Homo sapiens: one gene and its partners. The protein of the gene in region 1 purifies or fractionates together with the protein of each later gene. This does not show direct contact. Each region holds a gene or a part of one and is shown in the gene's direction. Other genes may lie near its edges.

Region 1 (7,034 bases):
ATGTACATTTGGCAACTGGCTTTTTTTTTTAGGAGTCTCAAACCCCAATGAATTTAGAATGTTAACCCTGCTGCCCTCCACTTCCATCAGTATGGATTATTAGACTATTTCTCAAAGCAGCTTTGACAATAAGATTGTTTAGTGTGGGTATGTAGATGAGAAACTGAGGCTAGGAGGAGGAGGCTTTTTTTTTGGTTTAAAATCATGGTGAATGGCTTCAAATTCAGCTTGGTTTTGATATTTATATTGGTGAGTTTTCTAATTTATAGACAATGTGGTGATTGTATTACTTTTTAACCTGGTGTGCTTTGTAGTGTGCCAGTGCTCTTGAGCCAAGCGTATGGTTTAAGAAAATCAGTTAAGGGTATAGGCCTTGAGCATTGTTGTAGTGGTGTGGAAACAGGGAAAGCCTAGAATATGGAAAAGGTTGGTATATGGAGTTAGCTGTTTAAGACAACCATGAATTGGAGGCTTTCACAGATCTAGCTGTGAGTGAATTGAGTTTGATCTGTAAATCTAGTTTTTCCATAAAAGTGGAGTATAGTTGTCTCCATTGTAATTCAGTTGTAATCAAGTTTGCATTGGTGAGCTAGAACTAAAGTTTTTAAACTTTTAGTTTGTGACTTTTAGCTTTCAGTTTTTTTTGCAAGGGGGTGGCTTAATTTTTTGTTTGTTTGTTTGTTTGTTTTTGGGAGACAGAGTCTTACTCTGTCACCCAGGCTGGAGTGCAGTGGCGTGATCTTGGCTCACTGCAACCTCCACCTCGCGGGTTCGAGCAATTCTCCTGCCTCAGCCTCCCGAGTAGCTGGGACTACCGGTGGGTGCCACCAGGCCCAGCTGATTTTTGTATTTTTAGCAGAGGTGAGGTTTCACCATGTTGACCGGGATGGTCTCAATCTCTTGACCTCGTGACCCACCCACCTTGGCCTCCCAAAGTCCTGAGATTACAGGTGTGAGCCACCATGCCTGGCTGCTTACAGTTTCAATGAGAGCTAAGTTGTGGTAAAAAGGCATAGAGACATTTTTAGAGGAAGTTTGACAGAGGGAATAAGTTTTTCCTTTTTGTTTTTATGGATTGACAAAAAGTGTTATTTGGGTCTTAACTATTAAGGTTAAAAAATCCGTTTATAGCATAGGGATTACATGTGAGAAAATGGAAAGATGAGCTATTACTCATTTAGTTTATGTTATAGATGTGAGCAAGTTTATGAATGTTTTTATTAATTACAGTATTTTTCATAAACAGTTAGTGTCCTTTGAGTAGAAAATGTTAAAAATCTGTCCAGTAATTTTCAGAGACTGAGGTGACCCTAGATTATGCATTTTGATAAATTTTGTCAGATAGCTAGGATTAGTCTGTTTTTATTTCAGAATGTCCTAGCTAATAAAATTGGTTTTGTTTAGAAAACCACTTTTGTGCTTTGTGGTTGAGACAGTGGAGAAGGGGAATAATTCTTGACTTTTTCCTTCAGATAATGGAGGAGTGTACCTTTTTTTTTTTTTTTTTTTTTTTTTTTTTGAGATGGGGTCTTGCTCTGTCATCCAGGCTGGAGTGCAGTGGCGCGATCTCCGCTCACTGCAACCTCCGCCCCTCCAGGTTTAAGCGTTTAAGCAGTTCTCTGCCTCAGCCTCCTGAGTAGCTGGCATTACAGGCGCGTGCCACCACGCCTGGCTAATTTTTTGTATTTTTAGTAGAGACAGGGTTTCACCATCTTGGCCAGGCTGGTCTTGAGCTCCTGATGTCCTGATCCACCCGCCTTGGCCTCCCAAAGTGCTGGGATTACAGGTGTGAGCCACTGCACCCAGCCTATACTTCTTTCTATACTTTGCCTAGAATAAGGAATAAACACCTAATGCTCTGAGTAAATATGAGTTGTGTAAATTTTAACAGTTACTTTTTGGGAGTTAAAATGTAGAGGTTATGTAACGTTGCAGTTTCATAAAGTTTTTAAAAGTCGTTTTGGCTGTTACTTTTTTCTGAAGGACCCATGCTATCCCATGAAATATGGCACGTAAATGTCAAATAATAATAGGAGATTTTTTTTCCCTGTAGCTCCCAAGTTTCTAGACTTGGTATGGGAAGTGTAATTTCTTCTGAGGTTGGCACAATGCCCAGAATGGCAGTATGTACCTAGGAGTGGGGTTTATAGGGAATTTATTGGGTGAGAGATCCAGATTTGAAAGATGCTCAACCAAATTAGGTACAATCATTTTTTAAGATGGTATTAACATAGTAATACATCCTGTCTTGAAAGTTGCTGATGGATTGGTCTTAACTTTTTGTTGTCCATTAAGCACACTATTCAGTAATTAAGTGGAGACTAGAAAGTAATTTGAACAGGACCCTGGACTTCTGATAATAATTTAGGAGTATAACAAGTACACATTTAAGGGGAAATTTTAAAACAGACATCACAAACCTGTTTTTATAAGGGAACATGCCAAGATAATTGGAAAGATTTGAGCAAGATGGATGTTAACTGCTAAATATATGGGTGTGGTCTAGTGAATTAAATGTATTAATGACGTTTGAACTTTTCAAGGCACTCTTGGAAAGAACAGGCTACACACTTGATGTGACCACTGGACAGAGGAAGTATGGAGGACCACCTCCAGATTCCGTTTATTCAGGTCAGCAGCCTTCTGTTGGCACTGAGGTAAAGCAACTAAAAACTTGTACCTTTTGTAGTAAAAGCACAGGTATCTGGTTTCCTAAAGCAATTCTCCATGGTTTTTACTTAATATTTAATTTACAGATATTTGTGGGAAAGATCCCAAGAGATCTATTTGAGGATGAACTTGTTCCATTATTTGAGAAAGCTGGACCTATATGGGATCTTCGTCTAATGATGGATCCACTCACTGGTCTCAATAGAGGTTATGCGTTTGTCACTTTTTGTACAAAAGAAGCAGCTCAGGAGGCTGTTAAACTGGTAAGTTGTCCTTTTTTCCCCTTCAGTTTTCACGTTCACTGTCTTTAATATCAAGTTTTTTTCTTAGTGTGCCTAAGAGTTTACCAAACATTTTTTGAAGTACTGATTTAGGCAGGTTTTTTTTTTCCCACATCACTGTGCAAGCATTGTAGTGTTATTCTTTGCATGTATAGTTGATAGGATTCAGCATCTAAAAGGCGGCATGGTAGAATTCCTAGCAATTGGTTCTTATAAACATCTGGCTTAGTGACGTTTTTGTGTGTTTGTTTAAATTTATAGGAATGTGAAAAGATTAAGAAAAGTAACTGTGGTAAGAGCTCTCATACTTCCTGGCCATACCTGAGCCATCTCTTTTTCTTAAATAATTCACAAAAGACATTGTGATACATTTCTAGTTGATGAAACAAAAGATTTTATGGTGAGTGGCAATGTTTGATTTAAAAATACCAGATGTTAGGTAAGGACCTGGTAATCTTTCCAACTTTTTTAAAAAGGAAATTTTTCTTTTTTCTTTTCTTTTTTTTTTGAGACCAAGTTTCTCTCTCTTGCCCAGGCTGAAGTGGCATGATTTCGGCTCACTGCAACCTCCACCCCTCAGGTTCAAGTGATTCTCCTGCCTCAGCCTCCCGAGTAGCTAGGATTATAGGCGCCTGCCACCACGCTCAGGCTAATTTTTATATTTTTAGTAGAGATGGGGTTTCGCCATGTTGGCCAGGCTGGTCTCGAACTCCTGACCTCCGGTGATCCACTCGCTTCGGCCTCCCAAAGTCCTGGGATTTTAGACGTGAGCCACCACGCCTGGCTAGAAAGAAATTTTAATATTTTAAATTATAGTTTATGTAAGTCCTTTAAACTAGTTTTATTAAGTTCTGTGACAGAAGTGGTTTCTGCATTTTATAGTTGAAGAGTTGGGGGCTAATTTAAACCCATAGAATGTATCAAGCAACACGACTGGGGAGAACTTTTGTACAAGATAGCTCACTATGCCATGTTTGTTAAATTTGCTTTATCTGGCTTACGTATCCTGTGGGTAATTCCAGACAAACTTAAAATCTTCAGACTCATTTTTTTTTCCCTCCCTCCTGAGTTTTACCCCTTCCTTTACCATGAGGTTTATCACTTTAAGCAAGCCTTAAAGAGAAAAATAAAACTCATAAGTCTTCCTTTTCTTTTTTTTTTTTTTTTTTTTTTTGGGAGATAGAATCTCACTCTGTCACCTAGACAGCAGGAGTGCCATGGTGCGATCTTGGCTCACTGCAACCTCCGCCTCCCAGGTTCAAGCGATTCTCCTGCCTCAGCCTCTCCGGTAGCTGGGATTACAGGCATTTATCACCACACCTGGCTAAATTTTGTATTTTTAGTAGAGACAGGGTTTCACCATGTTGGCCAGGCTGGTCATGAACTCTTGACCTCAGAAGATATGCCTGCCTCAGCCCCGCAAAGTGCTGGGATTGCAGACGTGTGCCACTGCACCCGGCCAAGTCTTCCTTTTCTATGTTGTGTGAATATTCCCCACTGGTTTGCATAATTGAGTATGATGGAAGTTAAACAGTACAAAATTATGTTACTTGAAAGAATATAAGCCTTTACAAAGAGAATTTGAGAATTTAGATATTTTCAAATCATGTCTGATTTTTCTCTTCATAAAAGAGTGCTTTGTGTTTTAGAGGGAATTCAGATTTACTGGTAACCTTTGAGTTGTCAAAATTTTAGTTTCAGCAGTTCAATTTGAGGGGAGGGGCATTTTAGAGCTCTAGAAAGAGGTACCTTAGAAATCCTTTAGTTTGTTTTTATGATTTGTTTTTTGAGACAAAGTCTCTGTCACCCACGCTGGAGTGTGTGGGCATGATCTTGGCTCACTGTAATCTCTGCCTCCTGGGCTCAGGCAATTCTCCTGCCTCAGCCACCCGAGTAGCTGGGATAATAGGCGCGTACCACCACACCTGACTAATTTTTGTATATTTGGTAGAGATGGGGTTATGTTGGCCAGGCCGGTCTTGAACTCCAGACCTCAAGTAATCTGCCCGCCTTGGCCTCCCAAAGTGCTGGGATGACAGGCATGAGCCACTGTGCCTGGCAGGTTGGTCTTGAACTCATGGTCTCAAGCAGTCCTCCTACCTCGGCTTCCCAAAGTGCAAGGATTACTGGCATGAGCCACCTTGCCTGTCCCAAAATCCTTTAATCTCCTATAAAAGAGTAGAATATTTTTGCCAAGTAGCAATAAAGTAGCAGTAAGTGAAAATGCAGAATGATCCAGTAAGCAATGAGGTATCATAACTACAGAAAGCTAATACAGTGGGCTCTCTCTACTGTGGGTCCTGCATTCACAGTTTCAGCTAGCTGAGGATTGAAGATACTCCCAAAAAACCCAATAAAAAAAAAAAACAACACACCAGTGTATGAGAGAATGTTCGTAGGTTATGTGCAAACACTATGCTATTTAAGAGAGTTGAGCATTCATGGATTTTGGTATGGGTTCCTGGAATCAGTCCCCCGTATGTGCTGAGGGACCACTGCAGAATTTAGCTAGTGGTGTCATCCATTTTTTAACATTATGAAAAAGAATCATTAAACTGACATCGTAGGTTACCTAATTCTTGCCGTCAAAATGTACCAATTATGGTAGGTGACCACTATAACTTATTTATAGATGTTTTCCAGAAACTTTACAGTAAAGATACATCATTAGAGGAAGATGGTTTATAATCCATTAGTAACAGTGATTTCGAGTGCCAGTAGACACTAGGAAATGTTTCCATTTGTACAATTGCCTTGTTTAATAAATACGTTAAATTATAAAATTGCATTGCTGTAGGTTGCTTAGAATATAGTCTTATTAATATAGTTTTTAAATATAATGGAGAAACTTCTATAGATAAGCATTCTTTTTGATTGGCGTAGGAATTAACCCTTGTCCTAAAACTTTCTACATTTCTTTCTGGGTTTCTCTGTTGTGATTTGAATCCTTTTCTGGGGGCATAATTATTTTGTACTATCTAATTAATAGGAGACTTTGCATTTTGTTGTCTTTTAAAAGATACTTTTGGCAGGGTGTGGTTGCTCACACCTGTAGTCCCAGCACTTTGGTAGGCTGAGGTGCAAGGATTGATTGAAACCAGCCTGGGAAACATAGACCCCATCTGTACCAAAAAGTAACAGATTAGCCAGGCAGCGTGCACCTGTGGTCCCAGGAGGTCAAGGCTGCAATGACCTGTGATCATGCCACTGCACTCCAGCCTGGGCAACAGAGACCCTGTCTCAAAAAACCAAAAAGGGGGAAAAAAAAAATTTCCAATGGTAGGTATTGGTATACAGCCAGTAGGATATATTGGTCATACCATCATTTGCTTTTTTTGACTTTTTAGTAAGTTTTTTTGAAACGGAGTCTCCCTCTGTTGCCCAGGCTGGGGTGCAGTGGTGTGATCTCAACTCACTGCAACCTCTGCCTTCTGGGTTCAAGTGATTCTTCTGTTTCAGCCCCCTGAGTAGCTGGGATTACAGGTGCACACCACCATGCCCTACTGATTTTTGTATTTTTAGTAGAGATGGGGTTTCACCCTGTTGGCCAGGCTGGTCTCAAACTCCTGACCCCAGTCTCGGCCTCGGCTTCCCAAAGTGCTGGGAGTACAGGTGTGAGCCACCACACCCAGCCTACTTTTAAGTAAATTGTTTATTTTATTTATTTATTTATTTATTTATTTATTTGTTTTTGAGATGGAGTCTCACTCTGTTGCCCAGGCTGGAGTGCAGTGGTGCAATCTCGGCTCACTGCAAGCTCTGCCTCCCGGGTTCACGCCATTCTCCTGCCTCAGCCTCCTGAGTAGCTGGTACTACAGGCACCCACCACCACACCCAGCTAATTTTTTTTGTATTTTTTTAGTAGAGACAGGGTTTCACCGTGTTAGCCAGGATGGTCTCGATCTCTTGACCTTGTGATTCACCCGCCTTGGCTTCCCAAAGTGCTGGGATTACAGGTGTGAGCCACCGCGCCCGGCCTTAAGTAAACGGTTTTAATTATTATTACTGTTTTCGGAGACAGGTTGTCACTCTGTTGCCCTTGCTGGAGTGCAGTGTCATGATCAATGCTCACTAACCTTGAAC
Region 2 (7,034 bases), on another chromosome or scaffold:
CTATTCTCTGTCGTCATCTGATGTGATCATAGGATCTCCTTATTTACCTCTTTCATTAGCATATGAACCCCATGAGGGTAGACACCTTTTTTTTTTTTTTTTTGGAGACAGTCTCACTCTGTTGCACAGGATAGACTGTAGTGGCACGATCTCGGTTTACTGCAACCTTCATCGCCTCCCTGGTTCAAGCGATTCTCTTGTCTTAGTCTCCTGAGTAGCTGGACCACACCCAGCTAATTTTTTGTGTATTTTTAGTAGGGATGAGGTTTCGCTGTGTTGATCAGGCTGGTCTTCTTGAACTCTTGGTCACAAGTGATCCGCCTGCCTTGGCCTCCCAAAGTGCTGGCATTACAGCTGTGAGCCACTGCGCCCAGCACCTTTTTTTGTCTTGTTTACTGCGAAATCCCCAACAACTATAGCATTTCCAGGCACATAGTAGATGCTTAAGAATTACTTACTTACAAGAGCACAAACATCGGCGAATAAAAAGAATTACCTATTGAATGAATGAGAGTTAGCTGGTGCAAAAAAAAAAAAAAAAAAAGCCAGTGCAGATTGAGAGACCTGGCCATAGAAAATTACAACGCTCAGGGATAAGGTATGGCAAGGAACGTTTTTTGTTTTTTGTTTTTTTTTTCGCTTTATTGCCGAGGCTGGAGTTCAGTGGTATGATCTCGGCTCACTGCAATCTCCACCTCCCAGATTCAAGCAATTCTCCTGCGTCAGCCTCCCGAGTAGCTGGGACTATAGGCGCACACCACCATGCCCTGGTAATTTTGTATTTTTAGTAGAGACGGGGTTTCGCCATGTTTGCCAGGCTGGTCTCAAACACCTGACCTCAGGTGATCCGTCCGCCTTAGCCTCCCAAATTGCTGGGATTACAGGTGTGAGCCACTGTGCCCAGCCTGGCAAGGAACTTGAGGAGTGGGTGGAGAGAACGCTGAGATGGAGTTGTTTTCAGACGTTTCCATTTGTCCCAGATAGCGATTCCCTTAAATTGTGGCTTAGGCTTCTGTTTTCTAAAATATTCTTAGGCCAGGTGCGGTGGCTCACGCCTGTAATGCCAGCACTTTGGGAGGCCGAGGCAGGCAGATCACCTGAGGTCAGGAGTTCGAAACCAGCCTGGCCAACATAGTGAAACCCCGTCTCTACTAAAAATACAAAAGATTAGCTGGGTGTGGTGGTGTGTGTTTGTAATCCCAGCTACTTGGGAGGCTGAGGCAGGAGAATCGCTTGAACCCGGGAGGCGGAGGTTGCAGTAAGCCGAGATCTCGCCATCCATTGCACTGACCTTGGGCAACAAGAGTGACACTCCATCTCAAAAAAAGTACATTCCTTAAAGTCATCTTGACCTTAGTTTATACTTGTAGTTAAATTCTCTCATAAGAAACAAATCTGGCGGGACGCGGTGGTTCATGCCTGTAATCCCAGCACTTTGGGAGGCCGAGGAGGGCGGATCACCTGAGGTCAGGAGTTCGAGACCAGCCTGGCCAACATGGCGAAACCCCATCTCTACTAACAATACAAAAATTAGCTGGATGTGGTGGTGCACGCCTGTAATCCCAGCTGCTTGAGAAGCTGAGGCAGGAGAATTGCTTGAACCTCGGAGGCAGAGGTTGCAGTGAGACGAGATTGCGCCATTGCACTTTAAGCCTGGGCAACAGAGCAAGACTCTGTTTAAAAAAAAAAAAAATCTGAGACTTTATTTCTCTAGCTTCTGGCAACACCCACACTGTCTTCCTGAAAAGGTAGCACCCGAGGGTTCGGGGAAGGAGCCTGGTAGTTCAAGTGCCCGGGGTGAGAGGTGAAGTCTGCCTTGGCCCTTCGCCACTTTAACACCTCCCTTTTTCTGTGTCTCGAGTTTGTTCTGTTTTACTTCCATTTGCAAAATAGTAATAAATAAATATCAGTGTCCAGCACTGTGTCTGGGCCATAGTACGTGTTCAGTAAATTATATGTCTAATGTTCCATTATTGGAACGCTAAGCATGTGGGAGTTATTTATATCCTACTGCTCGGGTCATCACCAGGGTCTGATTTTTCACACGTGTCTGCAATTCAAAAAATTGCAACCTCTGGCATAAATGGGTTAATGTTATTCCTTTTCTCATGCTCTCCCAGAATGTGACAGGGCTTCCGAGGGAAACACTATACCATGGAAGAACCGGCAGAGTGTCCTTAAGGCCCCGGCAGGAGTCAGGGTCATTATGTGCTGGAGCCACCATATTTGGTGAAAAGGACTTATTCCCAGGCCTGACCCAGCAGGATCACCTATGAAATTGGTTTCTTAGGAGATTCCTGGCTCTTTTCTTTGGAGATTGTTATTCCTTAGTAGCCAGGTAGAACAGTTTGCCTCACAGTAGTGAGGCTGGAGTGAGAATCTGATCTGACGCTAGTCAGTTCCTGGGTTCCTTTTTAGAGACACAGGGCACAGACAGGAAAGCAGAGCTTACTTAGTGTTTGCTTTCCTGGCTCTCATTCTTAGCCTTGGGGCAGCTTGGTCTCAGGTTTTCCTGTGGGCTGTAGTTGCAGTCTGTGTCCAGTAGGTGGCAGTGTGGCCCTGCCTACAGGAGGGAGCTCAGAACCTGGGGGCATCAGCTGCATCTCCAGGGAGGCCCAGTTGGGCTATTACTGTTTGGATCACCTTGCATCTGGGAGCGATAGGGCCCTTAGGGTTTATGTAGGTCTGAAATGGCAGTTGGGCCTGCCCACATCCTGTCAGCTTGAAGTCAGCCTTACCTCCTCTCCTCAGCAGCCTGGATTATCTCTCAGCCACTCTGATAAAGCCCACTGTGCCTCAGAGAAACAGGTTCAGAGAGGGGCGTCCCTGAGGTTGCCAGGTCACCACCCATGTTCCTCCAGTTAGGGGCCTCTCCCAATGCCACCGTTTTCTTCTTGGCCTCTGCCCATCGTATTTGTTTTGCTACCTGAGACCATGGACACCTTCAACTTATAAAATTCCTTTCTTCCTGCACAGGGGACCCTCACAATGATCCCAATGCTCAGGGGGATGCCTTCAAGACTCTCTTCGTGGCGAGAGTGGTAAGTCCCCAGCTCCTAGCTCCTGGAACCCCACGCTGCTGAGAGCCTGGGTCTGGCACAAAGGTCAAATAGGCTAGGTACAGGGGAATGTTCCAGGGGCTGTGGGACAGCTCTGTTCTCCCATTTAACGTCATATCCATCTCCTTGTAGAATTATGACACAACAGAATCCAAGCTCCGGAGAGAGTTTGAGGTGTACGGACCTATCAAAAGAGTAAGTGGAGTGGGTCAGGGTGTTTGAATTGGGGGTGCATGGAGGAGGGGCTGTATCCTGAGAGGGAGGGAGAGAGGTCCCAGCCCTGAGCATGGCTCACACCATTTCAGGGCCTGGATTTATGCATCCTGACTGTATCTCCATGCAGCAGACCTTGGGCAGCAGAAGTAAAATGAGAAGTAATGACTGCTGGTGGTTGGTTGAGAGCAGGGGTTGGCAAACTACAGACTTAAAGTTTTCCTGCTGCTCAGCCAGGCAGGTCTGTTTGTTTACACATTGTCTTTGGCTGCTACTGTTGTAAGGCAGGGTTGGATTGTTGCAACAGTATACGGCCGTCCAAGCTGGAAATATCTACTCTCTGGGTCTTGGCAGAATACCTATGCTGAGTCCCGTTTTAGAGGAAGGCTTTGTTTTACCAATCTTCTTTTAAGTCACTGAAGTGCTCTGTGTCTGATTTCCTTTATCTAACATGGGAGACGCATGCCTTCACTGGGCAGTAGTGAGGGCTTGAGGCCATCCTACACACAAACTGATGTTAGCCATGTCTCTTCTCCCTGCTCTGTTTCTGATACGTCTTTTAAAAATATTTATACATGTCAGGCCGGGTGCAATGGCTCACACCTGTAATCTCAGCTCTTAAGGAGGCAGAGGCGGGAGGATAGCTTAAACCCAGGAGTTCGAGACCTGCCTGGGCAATATAGCAAGACCCCGTTCTCCACACAAAGGAAAAAAAAAGTATTGTTGGGCCAGGCACGGTGGCTCACGCCTGTAATCCCAGCACTTTGGGAGGCCGAGGTGGGCGGATAACCTGAGGTCAGGAGTTCGAGACCAGTCTGACCAACATGGTGAAACCTGGTCTGTACAAAAAAAAAAAAAATACAAAAATTAGCTGGGCATGATAGCGGGCGCCCGTAATCCCAGCTACTGAGGAGGCTGAGGCAGGAGAATTGCTTGAACCCAGGAGGCGGAGGTTGCAGTGAGCCGAGATCACACCACTGTACTCCAGCCTGGGCAACAGAGTGGGACTCCATCTTAAAAAAAAAAAAAAGTATTGTAGGCTGGGCGTGGTAGCTCACGCCTGTAATCCCACATGTTGGGAGGGCGAGGCAGGCAGATCACCTGAGGTCAGGAGGCAAGACCAGCCTGGCCAACATGGCGAAACCCCGTCTCTACAAAAATACAAAAGATTAGCCGAGTGTGGTGTCTCGTGCCTGTGTGTGTGTGTGTATGTGCATGTGTATATATGTGTACACACACACACACACGTTGTTCTGCCTTGCACAGCCCAGTGACAACCTTGGCCCCACCCTTGTCCCTCTGATCCATTCAAGTCAGGAATCTTGGTTGTGTTTTGGAGGCTGTGGGGTCCCAGGTTCATCCATGATACAGGTTGGTCGCCAACTGGTAGTGATGTGAATGGCGAACTAGCCATCCTTTAGGGACCAGCTCAAATGCTGTTACCTCCCAGAAATCTTCCCTGGTTCATTCTGGCCACCTCTGTCTCAACAGCCCTGCCTTGCCCGTTGTTCTCCCTGACATGGTCCCCAAGGGGTCTTTCTGACATCCAGAGCTGACCCCATCTCTGCTGACAGCATCCCATGGGTCCCTAGCATGTTAGGACAGGTCCAGCTGCCACCATCTGGCCTTCCAGGGCTCTTCCCCAAGCTGTGTGGCCTCATGGACCTCCACCCCACCCCATCTCCTCCCTTCTCTTGCTGCCATCCTCGGGATGGGACGCATCCCTCATCGTGCCACGTTCTCTCAAGCCTCCCTGGCTGTGCACGTGTCCTTTCTTTTTCCCTTAGAACTTCCCTGTCCTTGGCCAGGCACAGTGGCTCACGCCCGTAATCCCAGCACTTTGGGAGGCCGAGAAGGGCAGATCATGAGGTCAGGATTTCAAGACCAGCCTGGCCAACATGGTGAAACCCCATCTCTACTAAAGATACAAAAAATTACCCAGGTGTGGTGGCGCACGCCTGTAATCCCAGCTACTTGGGAGGCTGAGGCAGGAGAATCGCTTGAACCCGGGAGGTGCAGGTTGCAGTGAGCTGAGATTGAGCCATTGCACTCTAGCCTGGGCAACAGAGCAAGACTCTGTCTCCAAAAAAAAAAAAAAAAAAAAGAATTCCCGTCCCATTGGCATTCACAACTCCCTCCTGTTTCCCTAATTCCATTTGTGTCCTCCTGACTCCACGTAGACCACCCACATTGGCCCTTCCTTGCTCAACACCCTTCCCAGCTCCTCAGCGACCACACTTCTCGGCCTGGCATTGGGGCGCTTGATGACCCCGGGCCTGCCCACCTTTGTGGCTTCATCTCCTGGGACTCTCTGTCATCAGTACATGAGCCAGCCCTGCCGAAGCGCATCCCCAGCCTCCTGCCCTCCTGCCCCCGGGCCCTTGGACCTCTGGAGTTACTGCTATTCCACCTGACAGGCTGACACCTCACTGTCTTCCTTCATCTCTCTTCTTTCTTTAGGTCTTAGCTTAAGTGTCATTTTCTCCAGGAAGCCGCCTCTGTGTCCTCTGCTCCTGCCATTAGAACATAAGTCACTCAGGGCTCTTGAAGGACAGAGAGGGTCTGAGGCCTCATCCGGCCCAGGGCCTGGTGTGCAGGCTGTTGTGGGGTTGGTGGGGCGGAGCCGCCCTGTGGCAGGACTCACCCCTGTCCCCATGTGCCCCACAGATACACATGGTCTACAGTAAGCGGTCAGGAAAGCCCCGTGGCTATGCCTTCATCGAGTACGAACACGAGCGAGACATGCACTGTGAGTACCTCCCGCCGAGCCCTGCCCTCTGACCTGCTCTCACTTCTCTGCTGCCCCAGCCCCTCCCAGTCTGTCCCCTCCCCCACCCTGCCACACCTGACATTAGCGATGTCTCTTCTCCTCCTCCCTCTGTTTCTGATGTATCTTTTTTTTTTTTATATACGTGTTTTTTAAAAAACAAAAACCAAATCCCCCACAACGTGTGTGTGTGTGTGAACCTGGGGAGGTAAGTGTCACACGTTGAACCTCAGGGGCAAAGAGGGAACTGGGTGGGGGGCTGGGGCCAGCTGGAGGTGGGGGGAGGGGTCGGATTTTGGGGGAACCTCCCCCATTCCCCCCACTGAAGTTGGGGGTGGCCAGGTTGCAATGAGGACTGGCCTTTGAACCTGCCCTCTCTTCCCCCCCCAGTAGAACTGGGGCTGGGCCACCCGACCCTCCGCTTCCCCAACCCTGGCCCCCCACCCTGTTCCTCAGCGGGCAGTGGGGTGATAGGCATGTTGAGCGCCTGCCCCTACAGTTCCAAAGCCCCCTTTGAGGCTGCCGCGGCGTCCACATGGGCAGGGATGGGTGGGGGAGGGTGGGCAGGGCTGCGGCGTGTCCAGGGGCCGCCGTATTAATTGACTGTTCTTATTGTCACTGCAGCCACCACGCAGCTGGCTTGCAGCTGATGCTTACGCTCCCCTTACAACACCTCAGTGTATGGTTGGTATAAGGGTTTGTATCATGGGTAAGATCACTCAGCACCGCACACCAGCCCAGCTTAGCCAGGCAGCTCAGGAGCAGCGAGGCGCCCCTCCTCCCACCCCAGTCGCCCCCGTAGCCTCCCCGCACCCATGGCCCTTTCCTTGTTTGGGTGCCCTTTGTCCCTCCTGCCCCGATCCGTATGCTCTCTGAGAATCTTGCTGATCCCAGGAGGGGAAGGATGAACCTGGTGGGAAAGGCGGCGGCCTCTCCGCTTGGGTTCCACCCAGCCTCTGATGACCCGGCTTCGTGATGTCAGCGGCGAGGTGGCA
Region 3 (7,034 bases), on another chromosome or scaffold:
TGAGTGTGTGTAGAAACAGTCTTGATGTGTTGCCTGGCCTGGTCTGAACTGCCTCAGCCCCCAGTGTCGGGATTGTAGTCATGAGCCACCGTAACCAGCCTTGATGAGATGTAATGTTCCTATTCTGCCTTCTTGAACTTTGCTCAGTCAGTACAAGTATTCTGTTCAAACTGATTAATTAAACCCAGGAACTGAATACATTTAGATAAAACTTGCTACTTGAGACTGGGGCACTGGGTAGATTCGAATGATGCCGTATCTCGTGATGTCTACCCTCTCACTATCCACATTCAGGGATGGAAAGGATTTGGGGAGTGAGGAATGTTTATAGAAGTTCAGCCCAGCTCCCTGCTGTAGAATGTTCTTGTATGAGCAGTCCAGCAGTCAGTAAAGCAACCCTTTTCATTGTTGAACTGCTCTCATTCTTAGAAAGTTCTTGTTTCTGTTGACTTGAAATTTGCTTCCGTGGTTTAATTTTTCCCGCTGTTCCGAATTCTTTCACGTGCCACGCAGGATGTGCCTGTTCACTGAGTTCATAATCTTACTTCTCATGGGCCTTGTACTTAGCCTTCTTCAAGCTGATCATGCCTCAGGTTTTGCCTCCTTCTGTCACCAGGCCTCCTCTTCTGGGCGCCGGCCTCTGGCTCTTCCCTTGGGGTCTGGCCAACACCGCAGGCTTTGGGCCAGCATCAGCTGCTCCCAGGCTCTTAGCTCTTGGGAGTTGCTCCTCCATCCTTTGCCTCCCTGGGCACTGACATTGCACCTGGTCTCAGTCCAGGCTTGGCCAGCCTGACCGGCTCTGTGGGGCCTCCTCTCCCTATAGGATGGCCAGACGCCGCGCCCTCCCACTGTGCTCCAAGGCCCCACCCTGCCTCTCTGGACACTGGATCTGTAGTGTAACGGGAACAGGTCACATGACAGTTTCCTTTCTATAACTTTTTATCTTCTGTAGACTATTGAGATTTAGTAAACATGTCTGTTTGCACATGCTTAAAATGGTTGGAATGTTTTGCCTTGTCTGTGTTTGCAAGCGATGAAAATTAAAGGTGGTAGGGATTATATTGATTTGTTTAATCTTGGACTCGACATCTTCAAAGCTATATTTTTTGGGTGATACTTGAAAATCATACAATGTCTGCCTGTTTATTTATTTATTTATGAGATGGAGTCTCATTCTGTCACCCAGGCCAGAGTGCAGTGGCACGATCTCTGCTGATTACAGCCTCTGCCTCCAGGGTTCAAGCGATTTTCAGCCTCTGCCTCCCGAGTAGCTGGGGTTATAGGCGCCTGCCACCATGCCTGGCTAATTTTTTTATTTTTAGTAGAGACGGGCTTTCGCCATGTTGGTCAGGCTGATCTTGAACTCCTGACCTCAAGTGATTCGCCTGCCTTGGCCTCCCAAAGTGGTGGGATTACAGGCATGAGCCACTGAACCAGGCCAGTTTTTTGTTTTGTTTTGTTTTTTGTTTTTTAAGACTTAACTTTGTTACTCTTTGTTTTGTTTAACATTTCAGGATCATATGCCAAGTAATAGAGGAACATTTGTTAGGTTGGGCTAGGAATGGGGACTGGGGTAAGGCCGACTGTAGTTCTAAGAAGAGGTTCCAGTTTAACACCATTTCTTTAAAGAATTTTACCGTATTTTAATTCAGAGCAAAAGCCACACAGCTGCATATAGGCGTAAGTGAGTCCTTTGAGGAAGTAGGTGACTGAGCTGTAACAAGTCAAGATCATACAGCCGAGGGATTGCAGTGCATGTCTCTTTTCATTCTGAAAGAACTTCTCACTATTTAAAAACTATTTTTAAAGTTACGAAATATTTTGAAATATAGTAAACTTTTTTGGCCTTTTTTTCTTCTTTTGCTTCTTGTCTTCAGTCTGCATATTTTTTTTTTTACCGAAAGCCCACCTCTCTAGTAAGTGTGAAAGGAAGAGAGTGAGAAACTGGTGGTGTGACCTCTACTCTGGAGCCCCGTGTCCCTTCTGAGAAAGATGCCTCTTGTTGTAGAGAGGACACACAGTGGTTCTGCTCAGCTGCACTTGGGCATGGAGAACAAGAACCGATATAGACGAAGGCCTGAATCCGCAGAGGGAGACCCTGGGTTAGGAGGCACTTCTGCAGCCTTCAGAAAATGCAGACAAATTAATTCACTTATTGGACTGCTTTAATAGAATAGTGGCTTGCTCTGTGGATTCACAGAGGATTATTTGAGGTCAATGATTGGAATGTGATTTTAGAAAATATTCTTTCCTTGGAATTCTTTGGTTTTATGCTGTAATGTAGTTTGTTTGTTTGCTTTAAAGGAAAGTTTGTGCTTTCAAGGAAGGTTTTAGGATGAAATGGCCAAAAATCAAAAAACAAAAATGATCATCTTCACTTGAATGCGGGTGCTACATGAGTCTAGCCTTAGATTTGTATTATTCCAAAGTTAGGTAAGTGAGGTCAGCCACAAGATATTATACACTAGACATTTTACATTGATTTAAATTATATGGTTGGAGCTTGAATAGATTTTATAATATTCTTTGGACCAAACCTGCCTATCAGAATCACCTGTGAACAGTTTTTTAAAATAATAGCGACTTTGATCGCACACGTGGAGGTGCAGATCTAGCCAACATACTGTTTTAGGAACAGCTCCTTGTATTGTCTGTGCCATGCGTGTGTGTGCGCCATGCATGCACGTGTGGGGTGTGTTTGTGTGCACTTCTGTGTGTATCTACGCCTGTGTGTGAGTGACCACTTGATCATGCACACACATCCCTTAGAGGCACGGACTTGTGGACTTATCGGTCAGTTAGGAATGTGTTGTGTGCACGTGTGTCTATGTGCGTGTTGCATGCAAGTGTGAGGTGTCTGTGACTACACACATGCCAGTCTCATTATTCCCAGCTTCTCATACTGCAGTTGTTTTTGTTTGGTACAAAGGTGGAAGCTCTGCCAAGGTTTTTTCTTGATGCGAGCCAGGATCGAAGGGCTATGGTGTTTAAAGCTTGCGAGCTGAAGGCCCTTGGAAGGCAGGAACCTCAGATAAATTGTAGTCTGTAAGATTCCTGGTCGTTCTCTGGGGGGAGTCAACAATGATCTGTGCTTCACTCCCAGCGTCTGTTGACCATGCTTGGCTCTCAGGAGGCCGGACCAAGGACAGCGTTTGCACTCCTGGTCTCACCACGCCCAGTGTTGGCTTAGGGAACCTCTTGTGAATGCAGCCATGGACATTTGCTTTTCAGAGAACGAGAGTGAAGGTTTGGGGAATGTTTCTGTCCTTACCTATATTGGCAGTAGGCAGTGTGAGAGGTGGTGGTTCTTGGGTTGTGTTCCCCTTGCCTGGTGTTTTCCTCTGATTTCATACTGCTATAAAGAACTGCCTGAGACTGGATAATTTATGAAGGAAAGAGGTTTAATTGACTCACAGTTCAGCATGGCTGGGGAGGCCTCAGGAAACTTAGCATCATGGCAGAAGTTGAAGGGGAAGCAAGGCACCTTCTTAACAAGGCAGCGGTAAGAAGTGTCGAGTGAAGGGGGAAGAGCCCCTTATACAACCATCAGATCTTGTGAGAACTCATTCACTATCATTAGAAGAACATGGGAGAAACTGCCCCTATGATCCAATTACCTCCACCTAGTCTCTCTGCCTAGACACGTGGGGATTATGGGGATTATAATTCAAGATGAGATTTGGGTGGGGATGTGCAGCCTAACCATATCAACTGGTGTTCAGATGAAGAGGTTGTAGAAGCATATCTACTGCTTAAAGAGGGAAATTGGAGTCAGCAAGCTCTGGGCTTGGTTTTCTTCCACATTTAAAACAAACCCAAGGAAGAGATGGTGCAGCCGTGCAAGCCCCTGGTGGATCTGTTGTGTCTCACACAGGTTTTCTATTTTCTCTGTGTCTTCAGCAGTGTGCATCTTACTTAAACCGCCTCAGGGCTCCTTTCATCCCCAGGCCCAGTCCTCAGCTTGACACATCATAGGCCCTCAGCACCTAAGTGTTCTGAGAGGGAGTGCAGCTCCTAGAGGTCCATGTCCCATGTCCTCCTGCTTCCTGCATATCATTTGGGCCCCAGTCGGTCCTTGTTACTGCGGGTCTTGTGCTGTCTCTGGAACAGCCCTTTATGGGCACCATCTACTCACTCATTCACTTCTGTTGGCTGACGTGGCCCCTGAGCTCTCTTCCTGTGCTTAGTTAGGCCGCGCGAGGCCAGAGGTTGAGTGGGGAGGCTTCCAGCCCCTGCCTTCTGTCCCAGCTTCAGGCTGGCCTGGTTCCATGTCCTGCTGTCCTGCTTCAGCCATTCCTCTATGTGGCTTTCAGTCCTCTCACAGATTTCTTCATTTTTGCAAGGTAGCGTGGGAATGATGACTAGCACATGGCAGCACACATCAGGCAGGTTTATGAAATTATGTTTTAAGAGAACACAGAATCACAAATTACTCATCCTGTATATGTGTTAAAATGTGTAACCTAATTGCTGAACAATGAAAAGCAATTCCTTTTATATTTAAAAACTCACTAGTTAGCTGAGAACCTAATGGTAGTTGCAATGTACTTTAAATAGAAAAGTCCTCTTGCTTGACAAAGGTAAAGGAAACTGTTCGGTCCGACTTTGTTCCTTTCATGCCTGCCAGGGCTTCTGGTTTCACGGAGACCTCAGGCTAGGAGCAGCCCTGAGCAGGGAGACTGAGTTACAGAGAATCCCCACCAAGTTGCAGGCAGAGGGACAGCCGAGGCCCTCAGGAAGTACACGAGAGCAGAACCACTATGGCAAGTTCACTGAGAAATCTGGAAAGTTAGAATCCCAGCCCGAGTCCATCAAATGGAGCATCATAAAATTAAGTTTTCCTTACTGTGAAATGGCAATTTGTAATGATTTCTGAGAAGTGGGACCCATGGTGGTGTCGATGTCTGAGCCAGGTGAGGGTGAGATCCCTGGCGCCATGGGCTGGCCCCCAGGATGCCCTGGAAAACGCATTCTGTTCACAGCTGTGTGATTCTTTTCTTTCTGTGTTGGTGAAGCAGCCAGACCCGGTCCGTTTGGAATGCCTGGGATGGTGCCGCCGCATGTTCCTCCTCAGATGCTCAACATTCCGCAGACCTCTCTGCAAGCAAAGCCCGTGGTAAGGCCTTCCCTGCGTTGGGTCGGGTGGCGGGTCTCAGACAGGGTGCGTGCATTGAATTTCAACGAATGCTAAAATAAGTTCCTAACCTCTTGAATTGATACGTGAAATAGATGCCAGTGTTTGTTGAAATAAAAATGAGCCAGGAAACGTCAGCCTGGGCCTGAGTCGGGTCCTGCTGGCCACGTGTGCGTGACCTGTGCCCTTCGCTTCAGGCCCCACAGGTGCCCAGCCCAGGGGGCGCCCCGGGCCAGGGTCCATACCCGTACAGCCTCTCTGAGCCAGCACCTCTCACTTTGGACACGAGCGGGAAGAATCTGACGGAGCAGAACAGCTACAGCAACATTCCTCACGAAGGGAAGCACACGCCGCTGTATGAGCGGTCCTCGCCCATCAACCCGGCCCAGAGCGGCAGCCCCAACCACGTGGATTCCGCCTACTTCCCTGGCTCTTCTACATCGTCATCTTCCGACAACGACGAGGGCAGCGGAGGGGCGACAAAGTGAGTGGTGCGTGGGTCGCTGGGTGCTTCCTGGCGGGTAGTGACCTGGGGAAGCTGCCTTCTGGCCTGCCAGCCCAGCTGGTGTTTTGCTCAGAGATGTAGTTTATTGCAGGTGGGTGATGGTCAGTCTGTACTCAGATGGGGGCTCCTTGGACAGAGAGGAGAGAGGAAGAGTAGGTATGTTCTTGAAGTTTCCATGATTTAAAATCTGCACTATCCCAGCCCCATGGCCTGGAGCCACAGGAAACTTTCTGGGGAGGAATTTGACAAGAACTGGTTTGTGTGATGACCAAAACATGGGGGCATTTGTCCGGTGTGGTGCCACTCACACCCGTCACAGCAACCCCCTGCCGACCCCCGAAACATTAATCTTCTGGCTCCTGGATCAAGGGAGCTCTGAATTTCCTCTCCTTCTCCTAAACTCAGCAGGTTACAGGACACTTTGGAAATAACACTGTTTGCCCAAGCAAAACCCTAGAAAGCTGCCTAGACCCAGGCTGGAATTGTTTCCTTAGAGGAGTATTTTAAACACTGTGTGTCCCTGAATAAATGGGTTCACAAATACATAGTTGGTTAAAATTTGATCGAGGAAATCTTTAATTTGCACTCCTCCCTTTCTTTAAATTGTCTTATGTTTAAAACAAAAAAAACAGGGAAAGAATATTTCTTTTCTTTAAGTCAGTGTCTCCTTTTCCTTGGTGTGAACTCTACTTTACAGCGCAGATAACCAGGGCTGGTTGATGTTACATCTGTTTCTGATGTAGGAAATGTAAGAGACATAGGTGTCAGCTTCCATGCCAGTTCTTACCTTGTGTGTCACCTGAAGCAGGTGATCTTTTCCTCTCTGTCCTCTGTCCATCTGTGAAATGGGAATAAATGTCTGTTGACCCAGGGCAGAGCTTACTGAAGGACTCTCTGCCATCCAGGGATGCATACCCTGTTTATAGCAGAGAAGTATAACATTAATAAATGTTGATTTGTTGTATGTGCAGAGAAGTATAAAATTAATAAATGTTTATTTGCTGTATATGCAATGCCAAGACTCTAAAATGAAGTAAAGAGTTGCAATTGAATATTCAAATTTTTAAATTAACCTCTAGCAAGATAATATATTGAGTACCCATTGAATCAGAATCTCTGGTTGGGGCCCCCAAATTTGCATTTTAAATAAGCACCTCAGTCAGTCTTTAGCACACTGAAGTTTGAGAACAACTGCTTGATGGTCTTGGAAGCCCTTATGTGCCAGATTTCTAAGGCATGTGCATTTTGTTGTAAAACGTGACTCATGTCAGCAAGGTCCAAGTGTCTGTACAATACAGTTTTTGTCTTAGTAAGAAATGTTCTTTCTAAACTGTGAAACATAGGTAAGAAGTAAGACAAAAAGCAAAAGAAGTAAGCTTTATGACCCCAACAAGA
Region 4 (7,000 bases), on another chromosome or scaffold:
GAGTGACAGAGTGAGACTCTGTCTCAAAAGAAAAAAAAAAGACTAGATATATTGAGTTAAAATACATTAAGCTTCTTAAAGAAATCTTTTCAGTCTGTCTACTGGAAGACTGAAAATTGGAATTACATATATGCCTCTAATGGACAAGCACTATTTAGACAATGCTCTTTGTAAATTTGCCTGCAGGACAGGGACCATTGTTCTAGAAGCTTTAAAAATTGCCAGAGGTCTTTAAATTGAAGTGCTAAGGGACCTTCTCCCTCATGTCCCCAGGTTTATAACCACAATTGCTAGTGTTCACTGACCTGCATAGGCTACTCAGGTGTTTGTCTCTCTTTTTTGGTTTAGTGTTACTCATGTATTTTACTTCAATAGGATGTAGAGTCCTACATTCATCGATCCGGGCGGACAGGCAGAGCTGGAAGGACGGGGGTGTGCATCTGCTTTTATCAGCACAAGGAAGAATATCAGTTAGTACAAGTGGAGCAAAAAGCGGTAAAACTATTCTTACCTTTCATTAAGCAAATGTTGAGTTCTAAAGTCAGTCTTTGGTTTCTTCAATTTTTATCCACTTTAAAATATTTTTATTTCTAGTGTGTGGCAATGACTGAAAGCTTATTGTTAGGTACATATGTTGTCCTGTGATAAAAGGCCCATTCTGAAGTAACTTTGCATTTGAAAACAGTGATTTTGTTTTCATATGTTTGAAAGGAAGTTTTCAGACAATGATAAATATGAACCAGAGATAATTAAGATTGAGGGGCTGTAGGAATTGCTTGAAAATCAAATGAATGAGGGTATGTCAAAAGGATAAAGGGGAGAAGAGACTAATTTTTCCTCCAGGAGAATTGGAATAGTGTATGTAGATTCTTGCCCCTTCAGGAGCTTCACTCGTCTCCTTCCTCTTGAGTGGACTGCACTTAGGGACTTGCTTTCAAAGAATAGAGTAAGGTGGGGAGTGAGGACTTTACCGAGGAGAGATGAACAAACACTACCTGGGCCAGTTGATCGTGGGTCACATCATTAGTGATAGGCACATAGCCATGTGCCCCTGATAAGAGGTGGTAAGGCGAGCATTCACTTCGGGTATTCCTCCCCCAAATATGTAACCCTGAGCATGAGGAAAACACAAGACAACCTCAAACTGAGGGACATTCTACAAAACTGTTGACCAGCACTCCTTAAAACTGTCAAAGTCATGAAAAACAAGGAAAGAAGGAAAGACAGACATGGAATAAAGTCTGGGGTTTGATTAATAGTTTAGCCATGTTGGTTTCTTAGTTGAAACAAATATACATTAACAGTGTAAGATGTTAATAATAGCAGAAACCTGGAGCTCTCTGTACTGTCTTTGTAGCTTTTCTGTAAGTCTAAAATTAAAAGTTCATTTTTTAATGTAATACATACATTTGGCCTATATTAAAAAATTAGGGGACTGCTTATCTTATTGGAAACAATTGATGGCCACTGTACATTAAACTGTGGTTCATTTTCCTGTAGGGAATTAAGTTCAAACGAATAGGTGTTCCTTCTGCAACAGAAATAATAAAAGCTTCCAGCAAAGATGCCATCAGGTATGTTCCCTACCACTGCTATGGTCTGTTTTAGTGTTGGTTCAAATACTGCATGTCTTTGTACAGTAATAAGATTTGACTTAAAAAAATTTTTTTTTTAAAATTTTTGAGACAGGGTCTCACTATGTTGCCCAGGCTGGTCTCAACTCCTGGTCTCAAGCAGTCCTCCCAGCTCAGCCTCCCAAAGTGCTAAGATTACAGGTGTGAGCCAGCATGCACAGCCTATTCTTTTTAACTGATAACCTGTTTATCAAAAAAAAACCAGACCGTGCTGAAGTAGAATTTCACAAAGTGGATACCCTCGTTTCTACTCATTCCTGTCCTATCCTGTTTACCAGAGGAAACCACTATTAAAATAGTTTGCTTTGTCTAGGATATTTTAAGGGATAATATCTTAGGTATAGTATAGGTGCTTCTCACCCACTGGCTGATTAGACCACAGATTACATTCCAAATCTACATTAATCCAGTTCCTTCCCTGGTAGGATGAAAGTTGATTGCTTCGTTAATAGTAAATGTCTAGATGGTGAGGATTAGGTTAATTAACAGTTTGTCAAATGGAGGTGCTGCTGGCATTGGAGGCAAGAGAATTATTTTTTATGGGATTGTCCTGCAAATGGAAGGATATTTAGCTGCTTAGGATCCGTGGCTGATTCCCCTGTGCCACATACTCAGGGTAAGTAGGGTTGGCATTATAAAAACCAGAAACCATTTTCCAGATGCCTCCTGATGGTGACCTATGTTCTCTGTTAAAGAACCACTGAGTTTGGGCATCATTTTTATAGTAGTTTTCACAATTACTGTAAATGCTTATTTAAAAAACAGACACAGGGAGTCCATGATCAAAGGAAATCCTGGATGTCAATCAGCATATTAATAGTTCAGGAAAGTTTTGTTAATGAAAGAGTTTTGGGCCAGGCATGGTGGCTCATGCCTGTAATCCCAGCACTTTGGGAGGCTGGGGTAGGCGGATTGCCTGGGCAACACGGTGAAACTCCATCTCTATAAAAAATACAAAAATTAGGCCGGGTGCGGTGGCTCACACCTGTAATCCCAGCACTTTGGGAGGCCAAGGCGGGTGGATTACCTGAGGTCAGGAGTTCAAGACCAGCTGGCTAACATGGAAAAAACCCATTTCTACTAAAAATACAAAAAAATAGCCAGGCGTGGTTGCGCACGCCTATAATCCCAGGTACTTGGGAGGCTGAGGCAGGAGAATCACTTGAACCCGAGAGGTGGAGGTTGCAGTGGGCCGAGATCACACCATTGCACCCCAGCTAGGACAACAAGAGCAAAACTCTGTCTCAAAAAAAAAAAAAAAATACAAAAATACAAAAATTAGATGTGGTAGCAAGTGCCTGTAGTCCCAGCTACTCTGGAGGCTGAGATGGGAGGATTGCATGAGCCCAGGAGGTTGAGGCTGCAGTGAGCTGTGGTTGTGCTAATGTACTCCACCCTGGGTGGCAGAGTGAGACTATCTCAAAAAAAAGAAAGAGGGAAGGAAGGAAGAAAGAAGACAGGGAAGGGAGGAAAGGAAGGATGAGTGTATTTTTTTTTTTTTTGAGACAGAGTCTTGCTCTGTTGCCCAGGCTGGAGTGGAGTGGTGCAATCTCATCTCACTGCAAGCTCTGCCTCCCTGGTTCACGCCATTCTCCTGCCTCAGCCTTCCGAGTAGCTGGGACTACAGGCACCTGCCACCACGCCCAGCTAATTTTTTGTATTTTTAGTAGAGACGGGGTTTCACCGTGTTAGCCAGGATGGTCTCAATCTCCTGACCTCATGATCCGCCCGCCTTGGCCTCCCAAAGTGCTGGGATTATAGGCGTGAGCCACCACACCCAGCCTGGAAGAGTGTATTTTAACTGCATTTTTCAAATTTATTTTAGCATGGCATGTTTTTTTAAGTGTCCTACAGACAGGGTTCCCTTGGGTGCCAGTTAAGGAGAGTTGGGGTTAGATGGCCAAGAAGGGGAATGGGACAAAGATGCTGGTGGTATACAACAAACAGCCTCCAGCGTGCCAGCCCTGACACGGCTGCATGTCACTTTCTCCCCTTTTTACTGGATGATCTTTTTCAACTTTGAATGGGACATTTATTATTGCCAAGATAATAGTGACCCCCTTAAGAATGTACAAATAGTCCCATAAAGGTCCTTATCATTTTTTAAACTGACTTTGGAGGTCTTTTTCTTATTTCTTTTATTTTCTTTTTTTTTTAAAGAGACGGAGTTTCTTAAAATGATTGTGTGTGGCACAGTCATAGCTCACTGCAATCCTCCCACCTCAGCCTCCCAAGTAGCTGGGACTACAGGCATGTGCCACCACACCCAGCTTTTTTTTTTAAACTTCAGAATGGAAATAGGTTTTTTCTGATCCTAAAAGTAACACATGCTTCTTGTATAAAAACTCTTGACATAATTCATCATCACATCTAATGGTAGTATGACATTTTATTATGTCTGTTTTGTGGCTTATATAAGCAGCCCAAATGATGCACATTTTAAAATTGTTTGTACTTTTTGTGTATTATAAGTAACACCGTGGTGAACTTCTTGTTTTATTATTTCCTTAGGATAAAATGGTGGGGTAGGTGATAAATTAGAATTACATACAGTCAAAGGAATGGATTTATTACTATAGAAATATGATTATTATATACTGCATCAAAAATAAATATGTTACACATGTGAAAGATTTGGAAAGTTACTCATTTATCTTGAGATGTCTTAGAAATGAAATGTGTCCACTTCTAGTATCCTTTCTCCTAACACACTCTCAAACAACAGGCTTTTGGATTCCGTGCCTCCCACTGCCATTAGTCACTTCAAACAATCAGCTGAGAAGCTGATAGAGGAGAAGGGAGCTGTGGAAGCTCTGGCAGCAGCACTGGCCCATATTTCAGGTGCCACGTCCGTAGACCAGCGCTCCTTGATCAACTCAAATGTGGTAAGGTTCTGCAGCACATTCCTGACACTTCATAATTTGGGGTATGAGCAGGATATGAAAGGGTTTCATTTAAGCTTCCCAGTTGTTTTCATTTTCTCATGAAGTTAGTAAAGTATTAATTGTATTTTACAATTTCTGGCCAGACACAGTGGCTCATGCCTGTAATCCCAGCCCTTTGGGAGGCACAGGCAGGAGGATGGCTTGAGCCTACAAGTTTGAGATCAGCCTGGGCAACCTAGTGATACTCTGTCTCTACAAAAAAATAAAAAAAAAAAAAATTAGCTGGGCGTGGTGACATGCTGTGGTCCCAGCTACCTGGGAGGCTGGGATGGGAGGAGGGAGGATTACCTGAGCTCAGGAGGTTGAGGCTGCAGAGATCCATGATGGTGCCACTGCACTCCAGCCTGGGTGACAGAGTGAGACTCTGTCTCAGAAAAGAAAAGAACCAATAATTCCCATGTTTAAACACACACACACATACATGCAAATCCATAGAGGCAGAAAATATGAGTGGTCCTGACTGGCTGTGTGGAGGGAGGAATGGCAGTGGCTAGTAATGGATGCAGGATTCTTTTGGGTGGATTATGCCATGTTCTGAAATTTTAGATAGTGCTGAATGGTTGCAGATCTTACAAATATACTAAAACAAACAAAAAAAACACTGGATTATATACTTTCAAATGGTGAATTTTGTGGTATGTGATTTTTAATTGTTTTAATCCTAAAGTAGCCCAAACATATATATGCGCATAAATGCATATAATACATTTAGCCAGCATACCTAGAAACTTTAGAAGGTGTATGCTTTTCTTTTCCTGTAAATTCAAATTTTTATTGAGATAATTGTAGATTTACATGTAGCTGTAAGAAATAATACAGAGAGATCCTTTGTATACTCTGCTCAGCTTCCCTAAATGGCAATATTTTGGAAAACTATAATACCACAACCAAGATATTGACATTGGTACAATCAACCAGTCTTACTCAGAGTTCCCCAAGTAAAACGAGGGACTGTTCGTACTAATTGTTTGTGTGAGATGTATGTTTTTAGGAATAACTTTTCAAGAAATATTTTAGAATCACAAAAGCAGGTATTTATCAATTAGGTTTATTTTCAGCACTTTAATTTTATTCTCCTTTCTTGTGTTGTAAGGGTTTTGTGACCATGATCTTGCAGTGCTCAATTGAAATGCCAAATATTAGTTATGCTTGGAAAGAACTTAAAGAGCAGCTGGGCGAGGAGATTGATTCCAAAGTGAAGGGAATGGTTTTTCTCAAAGGAAAGCTGGTAAGGCTGGGGTCTCTGTTGTAACCTTGATGGGGCTTTATGTGGGCAGGAAAACAGTGTGGTGTGGGTTCTTCCTGTTCTGTGGGGATGCTGCATCTCTTCACTCTCTCATCTTCCCTGGGTAATCTCATCCGTGATCCTCAGATGCCACTCTGCCACTGACAACTACTGTACCTCTATCTCCAGCCTGAACCGTTCTCACAATGCCAGACTTGATCCAGCTGCTTCCCTGACATCTCTACCTAAATAGCTTATTTAAAGTAACTTTTTCAGAATCTTTTTTTTTCTTAGCAATGCTATTCTAGCACTGGACTTATTCAGAATCTTGAATTCAAATTAAAAATGAAAAAATTTGCCTCCCAAACCTGGTGTTCTTTCTTCTGAGGCCTTCTCTTTGTTTATGCCATAGACTATCACAAGGATTCTCAAACATTTTGGTTTCACAATCCCTTTAGCAAATGTTAGGGACCCCCAAAAGCTTTTGTTTACATGGGTTATATCTATTGATACTTACTGTATTAGAAATTAAAACTGGAACTCTAAAACACAATATCATGTTCCATTAGTCATCAGAGCAATGATTTTATCACGTCATATATGTCTAGGAAACTCCACTGTACCCTTGAGGGAATGAGTGTGGAAAGGGCAACATTATTATGAAAATAATTTTGACTTGGCGAAGCCCCTAAAAGATCTCAGGTTTCCAGGTTTCCATTGGCCTAGTGAACTAATCGGATTTATCTTCAACTTATTGCATGTCTAGCCATGTTGTTATCTCCTTAAGCAACTCCACAAAACTTGTGGGATAAAGTCTCAACCCTTTCATAGGAGGATAAGATCCTTCATGTCCTGGCCTCTGCTAACCTTACAGCTTAATTTCTACCTCATTGCTACCAACACCATTTACTCCAGCAGTGCCCAGTACACCATGCTTTATCTCATCCTCAGTGCATGCTGAACCTACTATTTATAGTAATCTTTCGGCTGGGCCCCGTGGCTCATGCCTGTAATCTCAGCACTTTGGGAGGCTGAGGTGGACGGATCACCTGAGGTCGGGAGTTTGAGACCAGCCTGACCAACATGGAGAAAACCTGTCTGTACTAAAAATACAAAATTAGCCGAGGATAATGGCGCATGCCTGTAATCCCAGCTACTCAGGAGGCTGAGGCAGGAGAATCACTTGAACCCGGGTG

What was found.
Region 2: the proteins of SYNCRIP (region 1) and SNRNP70 purify together in Homo sapiens (affinity purification with mass spectrometry; 4 studies listed by BioGRID and IntAct, with this or other methods). This does not show direct contact.
Region 3: the proteins of SYNCRIP (region 1) and FAM120A purify together in Homo sapiens (co-immunoprecipitation; 4 studies listed by BioGRID and IntAct, with this or other methods). This does not show direct contact.
Region 4: the proteins of SYNCRIP (region 1) and DDX21 purify together in Homo sapiens (affinity purification with mass spectrometry; 3 studies listed by BioGRID and IntAct, with this or other methods). This does not show direct contact.

The regions. Positions count from the first base shown.
Region 1 is NC_000006.12:85,632,866-85,639,899, reverse strand, and holds part of SYNCRIP (heterogeneous nuclear ribonucleoprotein Q), read left to right. Parts: intron 1-2,543; coding exon 2,544-2,657; intron 2,658-2,756; coding exon 2,757-2,933; intron 2,934-7,034. UniProt on the Homo sapiens protein: Heterogenous nuclear ribonucleoprotein (hnRNP) implicated in mRNA processing mechanisms. Component of the CRD-mediated complex that promotes MYC mRNA stability.
Region 2 is NC_000019.10:49,095,451-49,102,484, forward strand, and holds part of SNRNP70 (U1 small nuclear ribonucleoprotein 70 kDa), read left to right. Parts: intron 1-2,976; coding exon 2,977-3,041; intron 3,042-3,191; coding exon 3,192-3,254; intron 3,255-3,383; exon of another isoform or gene 3,384-3,396; coding exon of another isoform or gene 3,397-3,513; intron 3,514-5,939; coding exon 5,940-6,021; intron 6,022-6,708; exon of another isoform or gene 6,709-6,723; intron 6,724-7,034. UniProt on the Homo sapiens protein: Component of the spliceosomal U1 snRNP, which is essential for recognition of the pre-mRNA 5' splice-site and the subsequent assembly of the spliceosome. SNRNP70 binds to the loop I region of U1-snRNA.
Region 3 is NC_000009.12:93,510,652-93,517,685, forward strand, and holds part of FAM120A (constitutive coactivator of PPAR-gamma-like protein 1), read left to right. Parts: intron 1-5,015; coding exon 5,016-5,116; intron 5,117-5,331; coding exon 5,332-5,618; intron 5,619-7,034. UniProt on the Homo sapiens protein: Component of the oxidative stress-induced survival signaling. May regulate the activation of SRC family protein kinases. May act as a scaffolding protein enabling SRC family protein kinases to phosphorylate and activate PI3-kinase.
Region 4 is NC_000010.11:68,973,170-68,980,169, forward strand, and holds part of DDX21 (nucleolar RNA helicase 2), read left to right. Parts: intron 1-375; coding exon 376-495; intron 496-1,500; coding exon 1,501-1,574; intron 1,575-4,359; coding exon 4,360-4,519; intron 4,520-5,672; coding exon 5,673-5,807; intron 5,808-7,000.